Regions from separate parts of the Homo sapiens genome. Here region 2 is linked to region 1. The links come from fine-mapping of genetic effects on gene expression. A gene starts in region 1. The other region holds a variant in brackets. All regions are shown on one strand. Distances are from middle to middle. Region 1 holds the start of BUD31 (BUD31 spliceosome associated protein). Region 2 holds the start of MYH16 (myosin heavy chain 16).

Evidence for each region. PIP is the estimated chance that this variant, and not a neighbour inherited with it, causes the effect.
Region 2: its variant is fine-mapped to the expression of BUD31 in whole blood (TOPMed, PIP 0.99).

The regions. Positions count from the first base shown.
Region 1 is chr7:99,402,919-99,413,893 of GRCh38, forward strand. BUD31 (BUD31 spliceosome associated protein) reads left to right here and starts at 6,051. Exons shown (of 6, transcript NM_003910.4): 1 at 6,051-6,327; 2 at 7,116-7,251; 3 at 8,146-8,268. The coding sequence starts at 8,175. It overlaps PDAP1 (PDGFA associated protein 1), which reads right to left and starts at 5,679. Exons shown (of 6, transcript NM_014891.7): 1 at 5,618-5,679; 2 at 1,944-2,035; 3 at 480-587. The coding sequence starts at 5,630. It overlaps MIR12119 (microRNA 12119), which reads left to right and starts at 6,254; the gene lies at 6,254-6,346. LOC124901707 (a long non-coding RNA gene) reads left to right here and starts at 9,027. Exons shown (of 2, transcript XR_007060451.1): 1 at 9,027-9,065; 2 at 9,271-9,377. RefSeq lists a silencer at 5,448-5,507 and an enhancer at 5,718-6,107.
Region 2 is chr7:99,267,250-99,278,224 of GRCh38, forward strand. It overlaps MYH16 (myosin heavy chain 16), which reads left to right and starts at 5,590. Exons shown (of 24, transcript NM_001431356.1): 1 at 5,590-5,828; 2 at 6,093-6,174; 3 at 10,290-10,463. The coding sequence starts at 6,094. LOC105375421 (a long non-coding RNA gene) reads right to left here. Exons shown (of 4, transcript XR_927798.3): 4 at 10,967-10,975. The variant C/CA (reference allele first, on the strand shown) is at 5,329.

The DNA.
Region 1 (10,975 bases):
CAACCCCTTCAACAGCTACACAGGAGGTGCCCTTGCCAATTCTCCTCCTGCATCTGGACCACTCCGCTCCTTACCCACTAACTCACAGCTACACTGGCCCCCTTCTGGTCCTTGAACATGCCAAGCTTATTCCCACCACAGGACCTTTGCACTTGCTAATCCAGTTTCTCAATTGCTCTGCACGCCAATTTTCACATAGCTGGCTGCATCTTGTTTTTTCAGATCTCAGTTTATAAGTTGCTTCACCACCACAACACTTTTCCAAGTCCCCTCAATCACAGTCTGTTTTGTTAGTAACACTTCTCATTACTTGAAATGACACTGTCTGTTTACTTCTTTGTTGTATCTCCCGTAGTGTAAACCCTCAAGAGCAAGGACGTTGTCTGCATCTACCTTTGGGACTAGTACTAAACGGTCACTCAACGTTTGTTTGTTGAATGAATGAGTCCAGGCTCTAGGCCCTCAAAAGAACTCAGTACCTGGTAGTCATCTTCTTCATCCTCACTCTCATCTGAGTCTAGAGATTTCTTCTCCTTTTTGGGGTCACCTGCAGCCCCATCTCCACCTTCTTTTTGCTCCTCTTCTTCCTGTTTCAGAAATGGACAACCTGCAGAATCAAAAATGCAAAACAAATCCCCAAGACTGTGACCCTATCACCCCCCAGACTGTGGATCTTGAGAAATCAAGCCTCTGGAAGGCTGGAACCAAGGATGACAAGGGTCCTACTGTGACCCTGGCCCCCAGGGAATGGGACCTGGGCCAGACACAGGCAGCCTATGCACTTAGCACCACAGCTTAGAGGCCATTCCCATAGTCCAGGAAGCCCCTCACACAGCCACAGAAGGCCCTGCTCCCCTTCCTAACGCAGCCACCTCAGCAGCCAGGGTGAGAAGCTTGTTTCCTGGGGTCAGAAGGACTCAGCCACCAGGCTGAAAACCACCATCCTACTCAGCTCCCACCTGCCACATGCAGCTGCCAAATCATGCTGGCATTCCCAGGCGAGTCCTCTCCGCACTCCACTCCCACTCCATGGCAAGTCATCCCCCCGACCCACCCACACAGGTGACCTCCTGCACCAGCTCCCCAGAACAACACCTCGGAAGGCTGCTTCCCTCCACCTTTCTTGCCTTCCCACCAAAAATGTCCCTTATAGGAACCTCATGTCCCTTCACCTCTTGGCACCTGCCCACACATTCTCCATGTCCTGCTCAGCTGCTGGCTCCCCCAAGGACCCCTCCCAGACCCCACAGCTGGATGTGGCCTTTCCCTTCTTGAGACTCCTGGGGTACGTCACAGCTGTGTACCCATCTGGCCCTGACTGCTCCCTTAGGCCCTTGATCCAGGCATCAATCTAATGATATGGTAAGATGCAGATGCTGACGATGGGAATGTATTCTATTTCCTAACGGTGGCCTGGACAATGTACTATGGGAGCAGAGGAGAGGGAACTACTAAATCAGCTCTGGCTGGAGGTGAGGCATGAGTCACAGAGGAGGAGAGGCTAAACAACGTCTCCAGGGATGGAGAGCATGCTGATGCTGGGGGTGTGGGAAGGCAGGGCATATGTCATGTGCAGTGTGGCAAATCATCCTGTGTGGCTGCAGCAGACAAGCAGGGGTGCTGGGAGCTCGAGCTGTGAATGGACAGGTCCTGCAGGAGGGAGATCCTCCTGAAAGTAGGTGCACAAGACCAAGAACAGGGCCCCACTAAAGCAGCTGCTGCAGAGCAGCCACAGTTCTTTCTAACCCATCCAGGCAGAGGATGCCCACGCCCTGACTGTCATTGGTTGTTCTGAGACTCACACCTGGGGCTCACTGCCCGCCCGACCCCCACGTGCTGGCTTGTCCCTGCGAATGGGTAGTCCTTGCCTGGCCTCTCTATGAACCAAATTGGCAAAGCGCCACCCTGGGCCACTGGCGTGGCCTGGACAGGCACGTACTCACCCTGGCCTTCTGCTTCTCAGCCTGCAGCTGCGCGTCGATCTCCTCAGGGCTTGTATACTGCCTCGCCCGGCCTTTGTGGCCTCCCTTTCTTCCTGCAGAGACCCGCAGTTTAGGTGAGCGGAAGCAGCTGCCTTGACTGCTCTGACCCCCAGAGGGCTGTGTCCTGCTTGGAGTACTCTCATCGGAGGCCTCACCTACCCCTCACCCAGCACCACCCAAACCGACACCTCCGCCACCCTCATGTGTTCAAAGGCACGCAGGAAGCAACTCGTGACCATCTGATGCATCACCAAACTGTGTACTAAATGCTGGCTCCTACACAGAAGACCGGAGGGGAGAACATGGCGGACGGTGCACTGCAATGACTTGCTACATCCCCTGGTCCCTTACAATCCAAGCATAGTGGACTCAGATGCAACCACAGAAACATGTACCACTTACATCCCTGCCGTCACTATAAGGGCTTTTTACACGATGTTCTGTCACAGCCAGGGGCACTTTTTTTTTTTTTTTTTTGAGACGGAGTCTCGCTCTGTCACCCAAGCTGGAGTGCAGTGGCGCAATCTCGGCTCACCGCAACCTCCACCACCCTGGTTGAAGTGATTCTCCTGCCTCAGCCTCCCGAGTAGCTGGGACTACAGGCGTGCACCACTATGCCCAGCTTATTTATTTATTTTTAGTAGAGATGGGGTTTAACCATGTTGGTTGGCTAGAATGGTCTTGATCTCTTGACCTCGTGATCTGCCCACCTCAGCCTCCCAAAGTGCTGGGATTACAGGTGTGAGCCACCGCGCCCAGCCAGCCAGGGGCACAGTTGATCCTCGGAACAAACCTATGGTACAGGGGTGATAGCTGGTCCCATTTCATAGACCAGGAGACTTAGACCAAAGCAGACTGCGAAACACCACGAAGTTTAGAGTCCAACTCCCAGGTTCTACGCTTACTGGCTTGATGACTTTGGGCAGGTATTTAACCTCTCAGTCTCAGTTTCCTCATCTGTGTCCCTACCTTACAGGGTTGTCACAAAGATAGATGAATTAATCAATATACAGAAAGCTGCTGGAACAGTGCCTGCTACTGAATAAGCACTACAAAAATGTTCGCTAATATCCAGGCACAGTGGCTGATGCCTGTAATCCCAGCACTTTGGGAGGCCAAGGCGGGCAGATCACTTGAGGCCAGTTCAAGACCAGCCTGGTCAACATGGTGAAACCCCCTCACTACTAAAAATACAAAAATTAGCTGGGCATGGTGTCACATGTTTGTAATCCCAGCTACTTGGGAGGCTGAGAAAGGAGAATCGCTTGAACCCAGGAGGCAGAGGTTGCAGTAGCCGAGATTGAGCCACTGCACTCCAGCCTGGGCCACAGAGCGAGACTCCGTCTCAAAAAAATAAAAAAATCGCTGTTCGTTACTTTTCCCTCTAATCTAGTATTTGGTGGAAAAACAACAACAAAAGCACCACTGAGCACATAAGCAATTTACTGCAGATGTTGGAAACACAATAAAATACCTTGTGTTCACCTTAGTAGTATGGCAAAAAGAGAATACTTAAGGGAAAAAAAAGAAACCCAAACCTACAGGCAAAAACTTTGTGCTTAGACTAAGAAATGACTGGCAAAGTACAGATGAAAACAAACCTGACTACACAGTCTAAAAGTTAAAAATGTGACTAGCAGTTAAAGTGTCAGTTTTATAGTCTGACCCTCTTCAGCCAGAACACCAGGCTGACCCTTGCTTAAGCCATCAGCCAGTTTTAAAGCAAGGTGGCATCCCCCTCTGCTGGTCCCCAAGTATGCAAGGGTGGCTGTGGCCTCAACTTCCACACAGGAAGCTGAGGCCCACCTGATTTCCATAGTCTGTCTCTGTGAGCAGAGACTCTGTAATCAGCCAGAGTTGCTCTGCACTCCAGAGGCGGTAGCAGAGATACTGGCCTCCTCTGATTCCTTACAGCAGCTGCAAAGCCATAATTGGGCTGCTAAAGATCACACCACCCATTTTTAATGACTACCTAGGTTCCCAGGGGTGTCTAAGTCTATGCTTATTAAAGTCCTATTGTGAGAGAGCAAGTGTGCCAAGAAAAAAACCAACACCCTTTCTTGCTCTCTTAATACACCAGGCAACAGTAACAACTCAAAATTGATTACTATAGGCTCTCCTCTCATGCACTTGGCTATGGGACCCTGACCTTAGCTTGGTCCACAGTAATTTTATAGTAGACTCTTCAAGACTTTAAAAAACGATTTGCACTTAACATAATGGAAACAAGCGTTGGTCCTTTGCTCTTAGGGAGTTTGATACTTTTAACACCTTCACGGTTTTTTGTGGTTTTCAGATTAACCCAAGAAAATGTAAACCTTGTCTACCCCAAAAAGCTTTTCACAAGCCCAAAGACCATTTAGCTATGAATTCATATTTAAGGTTTTATCGTTGTAACCTCCAACCTTTACCCAAAGTATCCATTAAGTAAAACTTCGGAGGGAGGATGGCTCATTCAGCAACCTCCTTTTACAGATGAAGGGACTGGGGAACAATAGCAGAGAGACTTTTCCAGCCACAGAATAAATCAGTAGAGAGCTAGGTTTAAACACATTTAGCTCTGTAATGCCCAATTATCTCTGGAGTCAGGAAGCGATTTAGGTTTGAAAACGCTACAGGCAGATGTTTCTGTGGGTTGAGTGCATTAACCAATATAACACATGAGCTACCAACACAAATATATTTGTTCTGTGCCAGGAGGTGGCCAGGCACTTTATGAGCGCTATAATTTTACCACCCCGGCCCCAATTCAACAAGCTAAGGATTAGCCCAGTGTTTCAGATGAGGAAGAGGTTAACTTGTTCAGGGCCACAGAATTAGACGTGACATAGCTGGGATTCAAACTGGGGACTATCGATTCTAAAGGGGGAAACAGGATAGAGAACGGGCTAGAAGATAGAGGACGGGCTACAATGGACTGGGCAGTCATGAACCTACTTACAAGATCAAGAGCTGGCAAAGCCTTAAAAATAAGAATAGTTACTGCTTCACTGGGCACTTTTAACGACTGCCTGGCACTGTACTGCGCACTCCACGTGGATTACCTAGTTGAAGCCTCCCAACAGTACTAAGAGGTAGGTACAATCGTTATTCCCATTGGCAAATGAGAAAACGGAGACACAGGAGGTGGAGCGACTGGCTCAAAGGAACACACCGAGCCGCTACCGAACGGGGGAGTCGAAACCAGGTCTGGAAGGCTCATGGGCATCTCCTTAAGTCCTCCTAGGCAGGCCTGGCTGAACCGAAGCCAGAAAAAGCCCACGTTTTACGCGAGAGGCAGGCGGGCCCGGCACAAGCGCGGGACGCGGTGACTCAGTTCCTAGCCAGCCAAAGAGTGGGATAAATTCCAGAACCCCTAGACCCGGAGAAGCGCATCCTAGATCCGGCTTTCTAGGCCGGCGAGGACCCAGAGCTTCCGAAACTCCTCAGACCACTGACGGAGTGACTCTGGGACACCACAGTCCTCAGTTTCCCCATCGGGACAATTGGGCGTCGAGGCCCAGGCCTGGCTCTCAGCCGGTGCGGACAGCCTCCCTCTGCGCTGCTCTCAGAGACGCGCACGGGCTGAGGGGACAGCGGAAGCCGGACCTGGGCCGCCCCTCCAGGCCTGCGGGCCACCGGCGCCCGCCCCTCACCTCCTTTAGGCATTGCGGCTCCGGCGGCTGCGGCGGCGGCGGCGGCGCCTCGAACTGACACCGGAACCGGAAATAGCTTGGGCTCGACTTCTTCCTCCTGGGCCAGCCGCCGCCGCCGCTTCAGTGGCCGCAGTGGCCGCAAGGACCCGGACCTCAGGGAGGCCTCCGCACGAAGTCGGACCGTCCTGCGCGCCGCCTAAGTCCAGGCTTGCCCGTCTGCTGCCAGGCAACAACGCCCCTAGTCTCTCCGTTCGGGAAGACGCGTGGCCCTGCCTGCCACCCACCGGAAGTGAGGGCAAATGGCAACAGCGGCTCTGGAATTCTATACAGGCATTGCTGAGGACACCTAAGATGACGCAATCTCCGCGCGGGTAGGGCGGGGCTCCGCAAGGACCTCATGCCTTAGAGATCGCCTGAAGAGCGGAAGCCTTCTGTCGAGAAGCAGCTACCCAAGCTCCAGGAGCTTCCGGTATGTGTTTTCCCTCTGTTCTCGATTACCTTGGCAACGGCTGAGGCGGGAGACCGGTGGTCTGCACCGTCCTGGAGGGAGATATGAGTGGCTGGACTCTCAGCCAGCCACTGGGATGTGTTCGGGCTTTGGACCTTGAGGCCGGAGAGAGCTCCCGAGAGGAGGCGGCGCCACGTTCGTTCTTCTGAGGGGACGGTAGATTTGGGGGTTTTCCTCTAGGATTCTCGCGCCGTTTCCTCTGGTAGGAACGTCTTCTGTGTTCTGATTGTTTTTCTAAGCTGGGTTCAGATGCTGTCCTTTTTATGAGTTTTCCCTACAATCCTGCACTATCTTCCTTCGCTCCTCCTCGCCTCCTTCCCCTAGCGCCCCAATCTCTCTTACACCTCCCGGCACATCTTTCTTCTCGATCTGATTACCTCCTACGTCCTCTTTCTCCTCGATCTGGTTACCGCCTACCATTTTCACCTCCGAGAGGCCTCTTCTGACTTCCAGGCTGGATCAGGGCCCTCGAATTTCCCTGGGTCGTAGAAAAGCGATCATTCTCTTGTCACAGACTATGCGCCTTGGGGCCGAGACCAGAATTCACCTATTTTTAGCTTCAGCGTAGGGGAGACTAGTGCGAAGACCACTGATTTGGGAGTCAGGAGCCCTCCAGAGTCAGGTTTTGCAAATTCTCAGCTGTGTGACCCTGATTCTACCTTATAGAGTTTGATTCCTCCTCTATATGGTTGTTTTAGAGAGTTCATGAGAGGAGGCTCTGTGGGCGGGGGGGGGGTGGGTCTTTGTAAAGTGTCAGTACAGAAGGGAGTGACTGAATGAATTTGAGAGAGATGAATCTGTTATGCTGAAAGGTAAATACTTAACCTGGGTTCTCTCTGGCAGCAAGGAAATGCTGTGTGGTTTGAAAAACGCTTTGCTATTTAGATTGGGATCGGCCTCTTGTATGGGAACTACCTGACTTTATGTAATATGTTGTTTGGTGTGAAAGAGACCTTGGCAATCAGCCAATCCACTGCCCTCATTTTACAGAAGAAACAGGACCAGAGAGGGAAGGTGACCTGAAAGTCACAGAATAATTTTTTAGAGCTGAACAAGAATCCAAGCCTGCAACTGCAGAGACGAGAGATCTTTCTGCTGTCTATACTCTTGGAAAGCACATCCTAAGGTACTTTGATTTTACAGTCATCTTTCCCTTTTTATTTTATGTTTTGTTTTGTTTTGTTTGTTATTGAGACATGGTCTCACTCCGTCACTTAGGCTGGAGTGCAGTAGTGTGAACATGGCTAACTGAAGACTTTCAACCTCCTGGGCTCAAGTGATCCTCTTGCCTCAGCCTTCCGTGTAGCTCAGACCACAGGCACCCACCACCATGCTCAGTTAATTTTTTTGATTTTTTTTTTTTTTTGGTAGAGATAGGGTTTCACCTCATTGCTCAGACTGGTCTCAAATTCCTGGGCTCAAGTGATCCTCCCATCTCAGCCTCCCAAGGTGCTGGCCAAGACCAGAATTACAGGCATGAGCCACCGTGCCTGACCTTCCATCTTTGCCTTTTTAAATACTCACCCCCATGGCTCCCCGAGTCACAGCCCTCCTTATACTCTATTGTAATTGCTTTTTCTCTTGTCTGTCTCTTTGCTAAAATGTCACCTTCTAAGGGGCAAAGGCTTAACTTTTGTTCTGTGTTCCCAACATCCAGTATAGGGTTAAGCTTTTAGTTGAAGTTAGCTAATGACAACAGCAAATGTCTCTTAGGCACACATTATACACCAGGCATGATAGATACAATTCTAATGAAGTCTTTGCAATGACCACATAAGGTAGCTTCCATTATCCCCATTTTACAGATGAGGAAACAGAGGCTTAGGAAGGTTAAGTACCTTTCTGAAGATCACAGCGGGTAAGTAGCAGAGCCAGGATTTGAACACAGTCTGGGTGCTGAGCCCTGTCCCATAGCTGTGACCCTATGCTGACTCAAGGAAGTCAGCCTGTACCGAAATAATGGCTGGCAAAGGCCTTTGGGGATTTGAGACTCAGAAACCAATTCATTTTTTTCCCCCAGATCTTTGCAGATTATCCTGTGGAAGGAAAATGCCTAAAGTCAAAAGAAGCCGGAAAGCACCCCCAGATGGCTGGGAGTTGATTGAGCCAACACTGGATGAATTAGATCAAAAGATGAGAGAAGGTGAGTAGGGGAGTTCCTGTCTGGGTGGGCTGGGTCCAAGGGTCACAGGCTTAGATGCCCCCAGGGGACAGGCATAAATGCAAATATAAAAAGAGAGTGGTCTACTAACACTGACATGTTGTGTTTGCTTATGAACTTGGGGAAATACTGTAAGTGCCCGAAAATAAGATAACATTAATGAAAAGGTCCTCAGAAAAGGTGTTTTTTTTTGTTTTTGTTTTTGCCAACTCGAATATAAAAGGTTATGAAATATAGATCAAATAGTCTACCTATAGTTATTTACTATTTTGGTTAGATATATATTTAAAATCATACAAAATATATTTACTTGGAAGTGCTATTCCTTTTCAGTATCATCGATTAGTCTTTGCCGCATCTGTTTTCTGTCACTTCCTTGTAAATGGCGTGTGATCCTGCTTTGTGAACCCGTGTCCTATGCTGTCTTTGGAAATTTTATCTGAAGCCACAAGCATCTGTTGGCCTTATATGATCACAGTGTGGCCACTTACCAATTGACTTTTTTATTTTTATTTTTTGAGTTGGAGTCTTGCTCTGTCTTCCAGGCTGCAGTGCAGTGGCGTGATCTCGGCTCACTGCAACCTCTGCCTCCCGTGTTCAAGTGATTTTCCTGCCTCTCAGCCTCTCGAGTAATTTGGATTACAGGCATGCGCCACCATGCCCGGCTAATTTTTGTATTTTTAGTAGAGATGGGTTTCTCCATGTTGGCCAGGCTGGTCTCGAACTCCTGGCCTCAAGTGATCCACCCACCTCGGCCTCCCAAAGTGATGGGATTACAGGTATGAGCCACTACACCCAGCTGAAGTTACTTTTTAAAGTAGCTTTTGAAATGCTTGCTTGTAACTAACCTAATCATGGTTATTATGAGGTCGTACCTCCAGCAGTAATTACTAAATTAAATCAATGTTAAATTACTTTGCCCCTTTTTAAAAAAACTGTTCGTACCAGATAACTTCTATTAAATACTCAGTACTTGTTTTGCAGTTTAGATTTGGATGGGCCTATTGCAGTAATCACGGTCATTTTGGGCTGAGAGATGTCTTCCCGAAACAGCTCTTTATCAAAATAAAGGAAATGGGAGCATGCTGGAATAGAAGAGATTTTGCAAGTCCTTGAAAGTAAATTAACTTCATCTTCTAAAGGGTGACTTTTGAGGGAAGGAGGAACCCTACTTTGTGTTTAGATATTCTTTACCTCCAGACAGAAGTATTCTTTGTTCTGTTTTCTTTTTGTTTTTGTTTTGAGACAAGGTCTCACTTTGTTGCCCAGGCTGGAGTGCAGTGGTTCAATCACAGCTCACTGAAGCCTCCACCTCCCAGGCTCAGGTGTTCCTCCCACCTCAGTCTCCCAGGCAGCTGGGACTACAGGCATCCACTGCCACGCTTGGCTAAGTTTTCTTTTCTTTTTTTTCTTTTTTTTTTTTTTGAGACGGAGTCTCGCTCTGTCACCCAGGCTGGAGTGCAGTGGCGCGATCTCCGCTCACTGCAAGCTCCGCCTCCCAGGTCCACACCATTCTCCTGCCTCAGCCTCTGGAGTAGCTGGGACTACAGGCGCCCGCCACCATGCCCAGCTAATTTTTTTTTTTTTTTTGTATTTTTAGTAGAGACGGGGTTTCACCATGTTAGCCAGGATGGTCTCGATCGCCTGACCTTGTGATCCACCCGCCTCAGGCTCCCAAAGTGCTAGGATTACAAGCATGAGCCACCGCGCCCGACCAACGCTTGGCTAATTTTTTGTAGAGATGGGGGTGTGTTAGTCCATTTTCACGCTACTGATAGACATACCTGAGACTGGGCAATTTACGAAAGAACGAGATCTAATGGACTTACCGTTCCATGTGGTTGGAGAGGCCTCACCATCATGGCAGAGGCCAAGGAGGAGCAAGTCACGTCTTAACATGTGTACCTGCTGAATCTTTACTACCTGCTTTTCTGCTTGGATCACAGCATTCTGTTTGTTGAGCTGAATTGTAATTCCTAGGTAATAGAATGGCTTAAAAGCTGGAGACAGGGAGGGATAGTCTTCTTGACCACTCTTCGCCCTTCTGTTCTTCCCTAAAAACTGAGGAGGTCATAGACAAAGATGAACTTGTGACTGCTGAGAGAGAGAGAACTGCCTTGCGGCAAGTATGAGTGCCACCTGATCCTGCGTGTGTTGAAGGAGCAGCTTCTGCTGTGGCTACTTCCCTCAGAACCTGTAGACTGGTCTAGTTTATTTAGCTTTTCCTCAGCCCTAAAGGACTTTGGCTGGGAGATGAAATTAGAAGTGCCTTCAAGATGATTAGGATGCCCATCTGTGGGCCTAGAATTATCTTGATTAATTATTACGCTGTAGAAATAGATCTGAAAGCATAGGGACCAAGGTTGGTTTTTTGGCTTTTTTTTGTTTGTTTTGTTTTGTTTTTTTTTGAGACAGGGTCATCTGTCATCCAGGCTGGAGTGCAGTGGCACAATGTCAGCTAACTGCAACCTCTGCTTCCCAGGTTCAAGCACTTCTCGTGCCTCAGCCTCCCGAGTAACTGGGATTACAGGCATGTGCCACCATGCCCAGATAATTTTTGTATTTTCAGTAGAGACAGTGTTTTGCCCTGTTGGCCAGGGTGTTCTCGAACTCCTGACCTCAAGTGATCCACCCACCTCGGCCTCCAAAAGTGCTGGGATTACAGGCGTGAGCCACTGTGCCCAGCCGG
Region 2 (10,975 bases), 140 kb before region 1:
TTGTTTTGTTTGAGACAGGGTCTTCCTGGAGTGCAGTGGTGCAATCACAGCTCACTACAACCTGGAACTCCCAGGCTCAAGTGATCCTCCTGCCTCAGCCTCCCAAGTAGCTGGGACTTAAGGCATACACCATCACACCCAGCTAATTTTTTAAATTATTTGTAGAGATGGGGTCTCACTCTGTTGCCCAGGCTAGTCTCAAACTCCTGGGCTCAAGCAATCCACCTGCCTCGGCCTCCCAAAGTGCTGGGATTACAGGCATAAGCCACCACACCTGGCCTGAGCCCTGAGTGTCCAAGAATAAAAAGGGCCAATGAGAATCAAGGTCATGGATCTGGCCCGTGGGGAAGTTTGCTTGGGCAGAGCCTGGACAATGAAGCACTGTAAGCCCAGCTCTGAGCCAGCGGCTGAGATGGGACTGACTCAGACAGAGCAACCTCCTGCTCCTGACTCATGGGGCCCGAGTTGCCCTGGGTCTATCCCATTTCCTGGCCCTGCAGCATCCTGGTGGGGTTGTAAAGGCTAGCCAGGCCAGTGGTGCCAGGTGTCCTTCTATAGCCGCCCTGCCCCCCACAACAAACTGCACCCCAACATGATCGCCCCGTGACACAGGAGGTTCACAGGCTTTGCAGTCAGGAGAGTCAGCTCAAAGCCTGCCTCTGTGCCGCCTGGAGCAGATCATTTCTCTCTCCAAGTTCTCACGCATGACGCAGGCTTGGCATGGAAGCTTCCAGCATGCCTGTGCCTCTAATGCATCTGGTCACTCAGCAAACACTTATGGTGCGCCTACTGTGTGCCAGGCATGGTTCCAGGCTCTAGGGACACACAGTGAAGAGAACAGAATGAGTCCCTCACTCCCTGGAGCTTGCTTTATAATACTCTGTGTGTGTGGAATTGTAACACTGCCCTAGAACCTGCTGGAACTGTTTGTTTTGGCATCCTTCACAATTAAGATGTGCTGTAAATAGCTAGATTGACTTGCGGGGGACACTTGAGGTTTGGAGACAGGATCATGGAATAATTGAGCTGGAAAGAATCTTAGAAACCAACGGGCCCCTCCTTTCCCTACCCACCCTTGACAGATGGGAAACTTAAGAAAGCCTGGAGAGGGGGTGGAGGTGGCATGCCCAACTTCACAGAACGAAGCGGGACAGAGCTAGTCGGCATAAGGCCCACCAGTGGCGGTCGTGTGGCCGGGAAAGCCGGAGCTGGTATCTCAGAATCTGGCACAGCTCAGAATCTTGTCCGTTTACCACCTGGCCAAACAGACTGCATCTTGCTGTTGTACAAGGGTTGCATTAGGCACGTCAGTTCCAGGGGAAGGCCCAGGGCTGCTGGGGACAGTTTTGCTCCCTGAGGACTAGGCAGACTGGCAGCAGGAGGAGAACAAAGAACAGGATGGTTCTGACTGCAAATGGTGTTCCTATGTTTGGAGTTGGCTCAGGTGGGCCCCACCCCCAGCCACATGCTTGTTTCAAAGACTAAACCTCAACGCCAATTAATTTTGAAATATCAGGAAATGTTTTATGACATCAAGCCTGATTTCTCTACCTTGCGATGTCTAGCTCCTCGGGGGTCCTTTTGAGGGGCAGGGAGCATTCTTCCTCATCTTTTGCCCACAGTGGCTCAGTTAGGTGCTGTACTCCCTGGCCCCGTGTGGCATTTTGGGTTCCCGCAGCTCAGAGGTCCCAGGGGCCCTGCAGGCAGCATTCTGTCCGGACAGGAGGGGAAGCCTAGGTCCCCCAAAGGGACAGTGACTTAACCACAGTCAGACACACAGCACATCCAAGGAAGGCTGAGGCCAGAATGCAGGTCTCCTGGCACCTTCTATCCTTCTAAAAGTTTCTATTATGTCCTATTTGAAGCCTGTAAAAAGGTGTTACATTATGAAACATAATAATAAAGCCAGCACCCTGTGAACCCACTGAAAAGCCCAGAATGTCAACCTTTCATGTCTTTCCTCTCCCATCCCCTCCCTACCCCCAGGAGTAACCCTGTCTTGAATTTTGACATGAACCATTCTCTTTTTTTTTTTTTTTCTTAAGAGACATGGTCTTGCTCTGTCGCCCAGGCTGGAGTGCAGTGACACGATCACAGCTCACTGTGGCTTCAAACTGTTGGGCTCAAGCGGTTCTCCCACCTCAGCCTCTCGAGTAGCTGGGACTACAGGTGCACACCTCCACATCTGGCTAATTTTTGTATTTTTTATAGAGATGGGGTCTCAATATGTTGCCAAGGCTGTTCTCCAACTCCTGGGCTCAAGTGATCCTCCCACCTCGGCCTCCCAAAGTGTTGGGATTACAGGCATAAGCCACACCACCTGGCTTATTTCCTTACCTTTCAAAAATAGCTTTAGCACATATGCCTGCAGGTCGTGCTTGGTTTTGAGCTTCATGGAAGTATCATACTTGACACACCCTTCCGTGACATTCCTCCATGACGTGCTTTTATCGCTTTGCCATGTTTCTAAGCTTCATCCTCATTGGTACGTGACATTGTCACTGCCACACTGTACTGCAGTGCTGCTGTGAACATCCTTGCTCATGGTCCTGTGCAGGAATTTCTCTAGAACAAAGTTCTCAACCTTGGCTATACATTAGACTCATCTGGGGACACTTTTTTTTTTTTTTTTTTTTTTTTTTGAGACGGAGTCTCACTCTGTTACCCAGGCTGGAGTGCAGTGGCACTGTCTTGGCTCACTGCAACCTCCGCCTCCCGGGTTTAAGCGATTCTCCTGCCTCAGCCTCCCGAGTAACTGGGATTACAGGCACCTGCCAGCATGCCTGGCTAATTTTTTGTATTTTTAATAAAGACGGGGTTTCACCACGTTGGCCAGGCTGGTCTTGAACTCCTGATCTGCCCGTCTCAGCCTCCCAAGGCACTGGGATTACAGGTGTGAGCCATCGTGCCTGGCCTGGGGGGATTTTTAAAACATCAACAGGCAGGGCATGGTGGCTCATGCCTATAATTCCTGCATTTTGGGAGGCTGAGATAGGAAGATCACTTGAGTCCAGTAGTTCAAGGCCAGCCTTGGTTATGGGCAACATAACCAGACCTCATCTCAGAAAAAAAAATTTTTTTTTTTTTTTTTTGAGACTGTCTTGCTCTGTTGCCCAGGCTGGAGTGCAGTGGCGTGATCTCGGCTCACTACAAGCTCCGCCTCCCGGGTTCACGCCATTCTCCTGCCTCAGCCTCCTGAGTAGCTAGGACTACAGGCGCCCGCCACCACGCCCGGCTTTTTGTATTTTTAGTAGATATGGGGTTTCACCATGTTAGCCAGGATGGTCTCGATCTCCTGACCTCATGATCCACCCACCTCGGCCTCCCAAAGTGCTGGGATTACAGGCATGAGCCACTGCGCCCAGCCGAAAAAAATTTTTTTAATTAGCTGGACATGGTGGCACATGCCTGTAATCCCAAGCACTTTGGGAGGCTCAGCCTGGATAACATAGTGAGACCCTATCTCTACAATAATAATAATAAATTTAGCCAGGCATGGTGGCATGTGCCTGTAGTCTCAGCTACTTGGGAGACTGAGATGGGAGGATTGCTTAAGCTCGGGAGGTTGAGGCTGCAGTGATCCGTAATCGCGCCACTGCACTCCAGCAAAACAAACAAACAAAAACCCTTCTTTGATTTAAAACTCCCCCAAGTGGCTGCCATCGGTGACAGCCGGGCTTTTTCAAAGGCGTGCGGTCTTTCCCCAGGTGTTCTTCCGTGCGGGCATCCTGGCCAGGCTTGAGGACATGAGGGACGAGCGTCTGGCCAAGATCATGACGATGCTGCAGTGTCGGCTTCGGGGCTTCCTCATGAGGGTGGAGTTCAAGAAGATGCTGGAACGAAGGTAGCACTCACAAACACCGACAGGAAGGCCCAGAGGAGCCACACGCACTCAGGGCCAGCTCCACTGGCCATGCTGCGTGGTGGGCCAGGGGTGGATGCCAATGTCTTGCTGGCACAAAGAACCCTGTGTGGCTGGCCAGGTGCGGTGGCTCATGCCTGTAATCCCAGCACTTTGGGAGGCTGAGGCGGGCGGATTGCCTGAGGTCGGGAGTTCAAGACCAGCCTGGCCAACATGGTGAAACCCCATCTCTACAAAAAATACAAAAATTAGCTGGGCGTGGTGGTGGGCACCTATAATCCCAGCTACTGGGGAGGTTGAGGCAGGAGAATCGCTTGAATCCGGGAGGCGGAGGTTGCAGTGAGCTGAGATCGTGCCATTGCACTCCAGCCTGGGCGACAGAAGCAAAACTCCGTCTCAAAAAAATAAAAAGAACCCTGTCTCTCAGAGCTGCCGCAACCAAGTTCACACACTGGGTGGCTTCAAACAACAGGAATTTTTAAAAATTTTTTTACTGATACCTAATAGCTATGCATATTTTAGGTTTTATGTGATAACTTGATACATTCATATAATAAAATCAGGATAACTGGGATATCCATCGCCTTAAATTTTATTTTTGAGTGGGGGATGGGGTCTTGCTCTGTAGCCCAGGCTGGAGTACAGTGGTGCGATCATAGCTCACTGCAGCCTCAACCTCTTGGGCTTGAGTGATACTCCCACCTCAGCCTCCTGAGTAGCTAGGACTACAGGTGCACTGTACCACACCTGGCTAATTTTTTTTTTGGTAGAGACAAGGTCTCCCTATGTTGCCTAGGCTCATTTCAAACTCCTGGGCTCAAGCAATCCACCTGCCTCAACTTCTCAAAGTGTTAGGATTACAGGCGTGAGCCACTGCGCCCAGCCCATCTTCCCTCTTTTTATATGGACACCAGTCATTGAATTAGGGTCCACCTTACTCCAGTATGACCACCTCATCTTAACTAGTTACATTTGCTGAGACCCTATTCCCAAACAAGGTTCCCTTCCTAGGTATTGGGTGTTAGGACTTCAACGTATCCTTTCGGAGGACACAGCTTAACCCCTAACAGGAAACAACTAATATAAACCCTCTCTTTATAGTTTCAAGTCATGTCACAGCCTTCCTCTTACTTGATTCACATAATGATGCTATGAGAGGGGCATGGTAGGGCCAGCACCCCCACTTTACAGATGTGGAAACTGAGGTCTGAGAGGTTAAGGAACTGGGGCAGGTTCATGCAGAGCCAGGATTAGAACTCAGCAATTCTCACTCCACATCCCTGCCCTTGGAACCATGTTTTTCAGCCATCTCCCTAACCTGGTAATTTTTAAAGGGCTGGGTCTGGCCAGGTGTGGTAGCCCATACCTGTAATCCCAGCACTTTGAGAAGCCAAGGTGGGAGATCACTTGAGCTCAGGAGTTTGAGACCAGCCTGGGCAACAGGAGATAGGGAGACCCCATCTCTA[C/CA]AAAAAAAAACAGAAACAAAAAATTCGCAGGTGGTGGTGCATGCCTGTAGTCCCAGCTACTTTGGAGGCTGAGGCAGGAGGATTGCTTGAGCCAGGGAGTACAAAGTTCCAGTGAGCCATAATTGCACCATTGCACTCTAGCCTGGGCAACAGAGTGAGACCCTGTCTCAAAAAAAAAAAAGGTAGGTCCATCCCAGATGACCTGTGATTCACTCTATTTCTTTGTGGTCATAGAATTAGTAATGAATTCCTGTTCCCATCAGCAGGCCACCTGCAGCCCTGGACTGAAGGCAGGGATACCAGTTAGGGGCTGATGTGAGGGATCTTGGCCTGATTCAGCCCAGGGCCTTGGTGCACAGGAGGTCCTCAATAAATGGCAGTTGAGTGAAGCTGCAGGGAACAAGAAACGGGCAGATTCCAGCAACTTTGCAGATCCATGGGATTTGGAGACTAATGGGTGATTTCTGGTGGAGGAGGGAAAATGCAGGAGTCAATGACTGGTATGTCTCAGCCTTGTGCCATCTGGGAGGGACCTGGTTCCATCAGGTTTCACCTCAGCTCCCTTATCGTGCTGCTAAGCTCTGACCCCAACGTGAGTCTCCCTGCCGCAGACCACATGGGCAATGCTGGGTCTCGAGAAGGCACTTTGGTGTCTGAACAAGGTAGATCTGCTGGCTTCTATTCCCAGGCCCCACCCCTTCCCCAGGGAAGCCAGGTCCTAACACCTTCATTGTAACCCACTCAACCCTGGATTCTTTTCGCAGAATGGGCCTGAAAGTCATTCAGCAGAACGTGCACAAGTTCCTGCAGCTCCGTTTCTGGGGCTGGTGGAAGCTGTACAACAAGGTGAGGGCCGAGGGGCCAGGCCAGGGGGGACTGCTGCTGCCTATGGGCTGGGGGAGGGCTTGATCCTGGACAGAGATGCCCCTCGGGAGTGAGAGGCTGCAAGAACAGTTTGAAAATGAGGGCACCTTAGAGACAAAAATCTAGCCTCTGTCCAGACAGGGACTAATTCCTCCCTAAGAAAAATCATGGGGCGGGCACAGTGGCTCACACCTGTAATCCCAGCCCTTTGGGAGGCTGAGGCAGGAGGATTGCTTGAGGCCAGGAGTTTGAGACCAGCCTGGGCAACACAGTGAGACCCCATTTCAAAAGAAAAGAAAGGAAGAGAGAGAGGAAAGTAAGAAAGAGAGGAAAGGAAGGGAGAGAGGAAAGGAAGGGAGAGAGGAAAGGAAGACAGAGAGGAAAGGAAGGGAGAGAGGAAAGGAAGACAGAGAGGAAAGGAAGGGAGAGAGGAAAGGAAGGGAGAGATGAAAGGGAGAGAGGAAAGGAAGGGAGAGAGGAAAGGAAAGGAGAGCAAGTGTCTTTCTGCCTTCCATCTCATCCCTCAAAATAAAATCCACTTAAGATGGAGAGCGCCATACCACCCCCACCAAAAAAAGTGAGCTTGATTATTGACTCCTTGCCCCTGGGCATGTTGAGGCATCTTCAACTCCAGTGAGTTCTTGGCTTAGAGCTGGGGGAACCTCAGGAAATGATAAGGTCCGACCTCTCATTTCCTGTTCTTCCGAAACAGCAATGAGTATGGTATGTGAGTCAGCCAGGTGGTGGGACCCACAGAGGTCCCAAGCAGCCAGGCCACCCTCAACCAAGGCAGGAGGCCACCAGCCATGGCACTGCACATGGGTCCAATCATGCCTGTGCTGGGGCCACCATTAAGAGGGACATGTCTCTGGGCACCAGAAGAGGGAGTCAGGCACCAGGCAGCTATGTTCAGGAGAAAGGAGGACCCGCAGAGGGTGGGGACAGGCTCTGAGTCATCTCGGGTGGCCCTGAGTCCTCCATAGCTCACAAGGAAGTTTCTTTACACTCCCCCATGGGAAAGAACTAGCTAACAATCAGCACCCACCACAGATGGAAAGGGAGGAATAGTAAGTTCTGCTTCCCCAAATGTATCCACACACAGGCCGGCCCTGGAGGACCTGGGATTGGAGAGGAATCTAGGTGAGCATGTCTCAAAGGCCAGGCGTTGCCGGTGCCGCCTGGCTTTCCCCGCCTGTTCCATGACTCACCTTTCTTTACATTAATTCACTTTTTTTTTTTTTTTTTTTTTTGAGACGGAGTCTCACTCTGTCACCCAGGCTGGAGTGCAGGGGCACAATCTCAGCTCACTGCAACCTCCGCCTCCCGGGTTCAAGTTATTCTCCTGCCTCAGCCTCCTGAGTATCTGGGATTACATGCATCTGCCACCCTACCTGGCTAATTTTTGTATTTTTAGTAGAGACAGGGTTTTACCATGCTGGCCAGGCTGGTCTCAAACTCCTGACCTCAGGTGATCCACCCGCCTTGGCCTCCCAAAGTGCTGCTGGGATTATAGATGTGAGTCATTGCACCTGGCCTCGCTTTTTTATTTTGGAAAAAAAAAATTTTTTTTTGACACAGGGTCTCACTCTGTTGCCCAGGCTAGAGTGCAGTGATGCAATCATAGCTCACTGCAGCCTCTAACTCCGGGCTCAAGCGATCCTTCCACCTCAGCCTCCCGAATAGCTCAGACTATAGGTGTGTGCCACCATGCCCAGCTAATTTTTAATTTTTGTTTTTGAAGAGACAGGGTCTTGCTATGTTGCCCAGGCTGGTCTCAAACTCCTGGCCTCAAGCAATCCTCCCACCTCAGCCTCCCAAATGGCTGAGATTACAGGTACACAGCGCCCGCCCAGCTCATTTTTAAATTTTTTGTAGAGACAGCGTCTTGCTACATTACCCCAGCCAGTCTCAAACTCCTGATCTCAAGTGATCCTCCCCAGCCTCCAGGAATTACAGGCGTGAGCCACTGTGCCCAGCCACAACTTTTACTTTAAAAGGAAACTTTGTAGTCTTACCTGCTTTAATCTCATCCTAAGCAAATGTTACCCACAAAATTGTGGATTTGAGTTTTCATTTTTTAAATTGCCTATTAAAGTAACTATGTCACAACTCTAATCAAAGGGTGTCTATGCTTGAATGCATCTCACCAGATCCCTTGGTATACAATTAGACTCTGGGAAGACCCAGGCCAATGGCCTTTAAGGTTCCTTCTGAGCAAGACATGGTAGCAACAGCTGTAAACTCCCCTGCTTGTTACTAATTAGACCTGACAGAACAAGGTCCTGTTCTAATTAGTTTTTCTTGTTGTTGAGACAAAATCTTGCTCTGTTGCTCAGGCTGGAGCGCAGGGGCATGATCTGGCTCACTGCAACCTCCGCCTCCCGGATTCAAGCGATTCTCCTGCCTCAACCTCCCGAGTAGCTGGGATTAAGGCGCCTGCCACCACGCCTAATTTTTTGTATTTTTAGTAGAGACGGGATTTCACCATGTTGGCCAGGCTGGTCTTGAACTCCTGACCTCAGGTGATCTGCCCGCCTTGGCCTCCCAAAGTGCTGGGATTACAGGCGTGAGCCACTGCGCCCGGCCTTTTTAGTTTTTGTTGTTGTTGTTCTAAATCCTCTCCTCTTAGTATTCTAACTAAGCTCTAATATTATTTAACAAAGCCAGATAGGCTGGGTCAATGAAAAAACACTTGTAGTAGGTTTCCATTGAATAAAAAGTGCTACACAGCGGCAAAGTATGGTGGTTACTGCAACCTTTTCATGCCAGCTTTGCCACTGTGACATCTCAGATTCTCAACAGCCAGGCTGGCAATGAACGAGGTTTATCTGTTATCTTTCAAAAGAGGCGCAGGCTGTCCCTCCTCCCAAATCCATGTCTAGGGCATTTTCCCTCCTGGGAAATGTATCTATTGACTATGTATCTATTGTATCTATGGTATAATGTTTCTGTGGTTCCCAGGGGACCTGCCCCACCAGCTCTGCTAGGTGCTTTAGGAACCCCAAAGGGATGGGAGGGAGGTCTTTGAGGGGCTTGCAGATGCAGGGCAGAATACAGGTGGTAGGACCGGACGGAGCCTGGCGCTCCAGTGCAGGTGAGAAGGGCCAAGTGCACAGAGAGGTCCCGATGGGTGCTGCGGGTGCAGAGCACGAGCAAATGCTCCCGGCTGAATGGCAAAGAAGGCCCAGCCCTATAGACACAGGTGCAGGGGCACTGGCCATGGTGGGAAGTATCAGCTGACACAGTGCAGGAGGAGGGCAGGGGCTACATTGTGGAAGGCCTGCAAGGCCAAGTCGAGAGGTGTGACTTCATGTTAGACAGAAGATGAAAGGAGTGAGAGAGAGAGAGGGAGAGTAAGAGATGGAGAGAGACACACACACATAGAGAAAAACAAAGAGAAAGACACAGAAAATGAGAGAGAGAGAGACAGCACAACAGAGAGACAGGCAGAGAGAGAGACAGAGATAAGAGAGACAGAGATGAGACAGAGAAAGAGACAGAGAGAAAGACAGAAACAGAAACACGGAGAGAGAAAAAGAGAGAGCAGAGCAACAGAGACTGAGAAGAGAGGCAGAGATAGGAATGGCATGAGAGAGACACAGAGAGAGAGAGAGACACAGAGAGAGAGAGAGAAACAGTGGGCGAGTGAGAGAGACAGCAAAATGAGGCAGACAGAGACAGAAACAGAGAGCCAGAGGTGGGAGGACTCAGTAGGGAAGGAAGGAGGGAGGGGACCCCAAGGCTGTGCATTTCACTGGGGCTCCTGGTGTCTACACAACATGCAGAACAGATGTAAGCCTTGGGTCACCCAGATGCCGAGGACACCTAACTCCATGTCCCTCAGGATTAAAGAGCATCCTAAGAATTGTCCTAGGGGAGGATGGGCCTTCTCTGTTGAGGCCAGGGATGCTTTACACAAGGAGCTCAGCCTGGTGGCATCTGTGGAGAGGGACCCCACCCGCAGAGCTACAGCAAGAGCTGCTTCCCACCACAGTGGTGCTGTGAGGTCACGCCTGAGGCAGAGACTCCACAGCCCTCCGTCTACCCCCCAGCAAACCCCATTCTCCTAACACTCTTTGGTGTTGCTCATTGCCCAGGTCAAGCCACTCCTGAATGTGGCTCGGCAAGAAGAGGAGATGAAGGCCAAGGAGGAGGAGCTCAGGAAAGCCATGGCCCAAACCCAGGAGTTGGTAAACAAGGTCAAGGAACTGGAGGAGAAGACAGCCACGCTCAGCCAGGAGAAGAATGACCTCACCATCCAGCTGCAGGCTGTACGTGGGGTCCCCAGGGAGAAGGGTGGGAAACCCATACAGCCTGGACCCTGGGAGGGAGGAAGGGCGAGCTCTTCCAAAAACCCATGTCCCTCCAGACCACGGGAAATTCTCCAGCATACAAAGTCACCCTCGACCCAACTTCCAAAAAGTCTCCATCCAATTCGTGTGTGTGTGTGTGTGTGTGTGTGTGTGTGTGTGTGTGAGAGAGAGAGAGAGAGAGAGACAGACAGACAGACAGACAGACAGACAGACAGACAGACAGCGACATGGTCTTGCTGTGTTGCCCAGGCTGGAGTGAAGTGGCTCGATCACAGCTCACAGCAGCCTCCATCTCCTGGACACAGGTGATCCTCCCACCTCAGCCTCCCGAGTAGCTGGGACTACACCACCATGCCTGGCTAATTTTTTGTAGAGACAGGGTCTTACTATGTTGCCCAGGCTTGTCTCAAACTCCCAGCCCCAAGTGATCCTCCTATTTCGGCCTCCCAAAGTGCTGGGATTACAGGTGT